2 separate regions of the Homo sapiens genome follow, and region 1 is linked to region 2. A link means that fine-mapping ties the variant in region 2 to the expression of a gene that starts in the linked region. Tissue or cell type: caudate. Region 2 holds a variant in brackets; the other region holds the start of a gene. All regions are shown on one strand. Distances are from middle to middle.

Region 1 (2,667 bases), 62 kb before region 2:
TCCCGGGTTCAAACGATTCTCCTGCCTCAGCCTCTGGGGTAGCTGGGACTGCAGGTGTGCGCCACCACACCCGGCTAATTTTTGTATTTTTAGTAGAGACAGGGTTTCACCATGTTGACCAGGATAGTCTCGAACTCCTGACCTCAAGTGATCTGCCCAACTCAGCCTCCCAAAGTGCTGGGATTACAGGCATGAGCCACTGTGCCCAACCGGGTTTTTGCTGTTTTTAATTTTGAAACAGGGTCTTGATTTCGCTCAGGCCAGAGTGTGATGGCACCATCATAGCTCACTGACTTTGCTATTTACTTTTACAATTTTTCAGTTGGAGCCTTTGCTGGAACATAACATTCAGAAGTCTTTTTTTTTTTTTTTTTTTTTTTGAGCCGGAGTCTCACTCTGTCATCCAGGCTGGAGTGCAGTGGTACGATCTTGGCTCACTGCAACCTCCTCCTCCTGGATTCAAGCGATTCTCCTGCCTCAGCCTCCTGAGTAGCTGGGATTACAGGCAGCTGCCACCATGCCCTGCTAATTTTTGTATATTTAGAAGAGACGGGGTTTCACCATGTTGGCGAAGCTGGTCTCGAACTCCTGACCTCAAGTGATCCGTCCACCTCGGCCTCCTAAATTGTTGGGATGACAGGTGTGAGCCACCGCGCCCAGCCCGATCTTCCATTTGCAAGAGAAGAGGAAAATCCCCATTTTCACGGGAAACCTCCTAGTTTTTTAGGTTGACAAACGACTCCAAACCATCATGCACCCGCCCCGGTCCTCTGGGCCAACGCGCCGGTGCTGAGCTCCTCCAGGCCCCCCAAGTCTGTCTGTCACCTCCAAGCCTTGGCCCTGGGCCAGGCCTGGCTGTCTGGGACCCCGGAGACGTCCCCGCCCCGCGGCCTGTGGCCTGGCCCTTCAGCCGCGCCTCGGGGCCCGCGACCTCCTTGCCCCGGCCCCGGCCCGCGCGGTCGGTGGTGGGTCGGACCAAACCACCCGCTCCAGCCGGGGAGCAGAACGGGCGAGGCTCCCCCTCCGGCCACGATGGAGTCTTCCGTTGCCATGGAGCTGCCCGCCCCAAACCACGCCGCCGGCGCCGCGGAGGGCAATCGCCAAGGACCGCCGCCTGCCTGAGCAGCCCGGGGTGTCTGTGCCTCCGGAGCCCGAGAACCTGGGACCCAGGCCAGCCAGAGGTGGGTGTGGGGGCGGATGCGTTTGACCCTGGGGCTGAGCTGGAAGGGTTTGACCCCCGCCCCCCAGGCAGAACTCCGTCCCATATGAAACGCCTTTCCCGGAAAGCTGTGCCAGAAAAATGACTTTGTTAATAGTTCTAGTCCCTGGTTCGTTTCAGGGAACCCCGGCGCTGGCACAGCCTCTGTTGAGGGACCCGCCCCTGACTTTGCAGCAGATGTTATAATAAAGTATTATTATAACACATTTACAAAAACATTAAACAAAAATCAAGGGCCAGCCTGTCTGGTGAACAGTTAAGACTCGTGAGTGTCTGCCTAGCTAAAAAGGAGAGCATGGTCCATAGCCCCAAAGTCATTTAGTTTTAGTATGTATAACCTAGTTTTGGAAGCTGATTTGCCTCTAGTATTTTGTTTTTCTTAAAGGAATACTCCTTTTATCTGCATAAGCCAGGTACTGAGGTAGTAAGCAGGCCTGCTGTAGGGCCCACAGTTGAAAAGAAATGGACTGATATTCTCTGCATAACGATGGTGCATAAATGCGCATGTGCGACTTAGAGATTGGTTATAAATCGAACATCAGTAGCCACTACCCAAGTTAAGAAATAGAACCTCATCAGCACCCCAAAGTCTCTCCCCCATGCCACTCACAGACCCGCTCTTCTTGACCATGGCTGACTTTTTCTTTAGTTTTACTACCTATGCATGCGTCCCTAAACAATATAGTTAACTTTCACTTATTTTAAACTTTATATAAACTTTATATTTATATAAAATTTTAAAGATGATATATAAATTTCTTTAGTTTTACTACCTATGCATGTGTCCCTAAACAATATAGTTAACTTTCACTTATTTTAAACTTTATATAAACTTTATATAAAATTTTAAAGAATATATGTGGTGTTATATAAACAATATATAATATAAATATATAGACTATATATAATGCCACATATAGTTTTATGTAAGTTTAATAATATATATTAAACTTCATATAATACTACATATATTCTTTAAATTTTTGTTTTTTTGAGACAGAGTCTCACTGTGTTGCCCAGGTTGGAATGCAGCAGGGCGATCTCGGCTCACTGCAACCTCCACCTCCTGGGTTCAAGCGATTCTCCTGCCTCAGCCTCCCAAGTAGCTGGGATTATAGCATGCCTGGCTAATTTTTGTATTTTTAGTATAGACGGGGTTTCCGCGTGTTGGCCAGGATGGTCTTGAACTCCTGATCTCAAATGATCCACCCACCTCCGCCTCCCAAAGTGCTGGAATTACAGGCGGTGAGCCACCACACCCAGCCAACTTTCATTTATTTTAAATTTTATATAAATTTATTTATATAAAATTTTAAAGAATATGTGTGGTATTATATAAGGTTTATATAAGTTTAATAATATATATAAACTTTATGTAATACCACATACATTCTTTAACATTTTTTGAAACAATCCCAAACTTGTATAAAAGTTGCAAGCTCAGCACA
Region 2 (2,665 bases):
CATGGGCCGGGAATGTGCAGCCTGCGGTGACCCGGGAGCCAGCTGCGTGTGTTGGCGTGTCTGCGGTGGAGTCTGCTCGCCTCCGGCATCGTCCTACTACAGCCTCTCAGTGGCCTTGGAAACTTGACAGAAAGGGCCCAGGCGTGTCTGTCGGGCATTGAGGGCTGAGTGGGGCCCAGCTCTGTGGATGGTCTCCGGCTGTGGTTGTGTGTACCTCAGTGTAGCTGTGTGCTCATTTGTATAGACTCTGGCCCCATAAGGGAACCGGAAGGCAGAGCAGCGTCTGCCTGACGGGGAGGGCGCGGTCTCTGAGCACCCGGGCGCCCGCCTCCCATGGGGCCCAGCAGTAGGGGTGCAGAGGCTGGCGTGCCCAGACGCACTGTGGGTGGCCTCTGGGTAGTGGTCAGAGGTCAGAGGCAGGTCTGTGATGGACGGAGATGAGGCTGCCACAGCATGGGTGACTGTCGCATGGAAGCACAGGAGGGAGGAGATTTCTCACTGCCACACCCTCTGGGTCCCCCCTCGTGGATTGCCCGGGGCAGCTGTGGCGGGGCGGCCACAACACTGTTTAGCAGAGGCTCCAAGACGGGGGAGGGGAGGGAGGCTTCACTGTGGGAACAGGGAGGCTCCAGGTGGTCCTGAGGAGGCCGTTGGCTTAAGGGAGCCGGAGGTAGGGACCGGACAGACGCATGGCCTCCCAGGTGACTGGCGGGTACCTTGGCTCTCTCAGGCTCGTCTTGGGTTGGAGGCTGCTGTCATAACCGAGGCCTGTGGCCGTCCCAGGCCCCCCACGTGCCCTGTGCTTGAGCTGCAGGATGTGGGGATGCCCTGGGCAGGAGGCGGGCAGAGCCCTGGAGGGAGGGGTTCCACCCCTCATGTCCCCTCCAGGGCCCCGCACCCAGGGGCTGCCTGGCAGGTGCTCTTCCCGGAAAGCATCTGGTTCCCGAGAGCCCATTAGGACCGTGCTTCCGTTTCGATGTGGTTATTTTTAAGAATTCTTCATCAGATTTCATTTCAGAAAAAACAGCCCTTACAAAGCAGGGCTTTGAGGACTCCGATTGTCGAGGTGCACGTGCATGGCTTGGAGTGGGTGGGCTCTGAGCACCTCTCGGGGGCTTGGGTGCCAGAAATGTTTTAATAACTCCAGGCATTGAGCGCACACAGAATCACGACTGTGGCAC[C/T]TGACCCAGTGCCCTGCGACACGCCCACAGGTCGAAAGCTGCCCTGCGCCTGAAGTTCGAGGTGTGCAAGGAGCTGAGGGCCCACCTGGAGCTCCTGCCCAAGACAGGCTATATCCAGGCACAGTCGTCCTACTCCGTGCAGCTCAAGTTCCTGCCGCGGTAGGTGCCAGGACGCCAAGGCCGGGACAGGAGGACGTGGGAGGTTGTGGGCTCCGAGGCGCTCCTCGCCACTGGCCACTCCTCTGTTCTCATTGCTGCCGGGATCATCAGCCTCCAGGGATGTGTTCTGGGGCAGAGGCCATGACGCTGGGGGGCAGTCACAGCTGGGTCTGTGGTCCGTTTTGGTTGCTTTTGTTTAAGATGTGAGCCGAGTTGAAGTTCATTTTTTTGTACAGAGGTTTCCAATTATTCCAGCCTCGTTGTTGAAAAGACTGGGAGGCTGCGTGTCTCCCATGCATGGCCGGTGGCTCTCATGGCCACTGAGGGTCTGCTACCTGCCGGGATAAGGTGGCCCAGGATAAGGCTCTGGCTTGCTACGGGTACCCTGCGGTCCGTGCACTCCCCCGCTGTCTTCCCTGTCTTCATCCCTTTCCCAGTAACTCCCTGGGGTTCTGTTTCAAGCTCAGTGCACACCTGACATTTGCTCCTTTACCTGTGTCTTGAGGGTGTCCCTGTCACCCAGCTGTCCCTCGTCTAATCCAAGGCTCTTCCCAGGCCTGCTGGCTGCATCCCCTGGTCTCTGCTTTTGCCAGGTGAACTTTGATTTCTGCGCTTGAACATTTGTTGTGCTTTGGAGACTGGACGTCCTGTGTCCGATCCCAGCCCCCCAGAGCTGCCCTCAGCATCCGGGCCGGGACCAAGGTCCAGACAAATGATGCTCAGTGGAGCTTGGTGGGGGAGGTGGGCGCAGCAGGCACGGGCCTGGTGGGACTAGGAGGGGAACAGGGCGGAGCTGAGCTTAAAATCGGCTGCTTCCTGGACTTGCCCCCGCCGGCCGCCTGTCACAGGGAGGCTGATGTTTTTCTTTCTTATTTTACTTCTCCTGATATTTCTTTCTTTCTTTCTTTCTTTTTTGAGACAGAGTCTCGCTCTGTCGCCCAGGCTGGAGTGCAGTGGCACTATCTCGGCTCACTGCAAGCTCTGCCTCCCGGGTTCACGCCATTCTCCTGCCTCAGCCTCCCGAGTAGCTGGGACTACAGGCGCCCGCCACCACGCCCGGCTAATTTTTTGTATTTTTTAGTAGAGATGGGGTTTCACCGTGTTAGGCAGGATGGTCTCCATCTCCTGACCTCGTGATCCGCGCGCCTCAGCCTCCCAAAGTGCTGGGATTACAGGCGTGAGCCACCGTGCCCGGCCCTTTTCCTGATAGTTCTTTAACAACGTTAACTTATGTAATCAGAGATCAAGCTCTGATTAAAGTGAAAATGCATTTTTAAAGGGCTTTTTAGGATTCCTTTACGATGCAAACTCCATATTAATTTGAA

The links. PIP is the estimated chance that this variant, and not a neighbour inherited with it, causes the effect. A credible set is the group of variants that fine-mapping cannot tell apart.
Region 1: it holds the start of CFAP74, and the variant in region 2 is the best candidate, but not a certain one, in a credible set for the expression of CFAP74 in caudate (GTEx, PIP 0.59).

The regions. Positions count from the first base shown.
Region 1 is chr1:2,002,215-2,004,881 of GRCh38, reverse strand. It overlaps CFAP74 (cilia and flagella associated protein 74), which reads left to right and starts at 1,096. Exons shown (of 39, transcript NM_001304360.2): 1 at 1,096-1,181. RefSeq lists a silencer at 938-1,232.
Region 2 is chr1:1,940,703-1,943,367 of GRCh38, reverse strand. It overlaps CFAP74 (cilia and flagella associated protein 74), which reads left to right. Exons shown (of 39, transcript NM_001304360.2): 22 at 1,212-1,340. Among named protein-coding and RNA genes, the nearest start is that of TMEM52, 23 kb to the right of the region's middle. The variant C/T (reference allele first, on the strand shown) is at 1,182.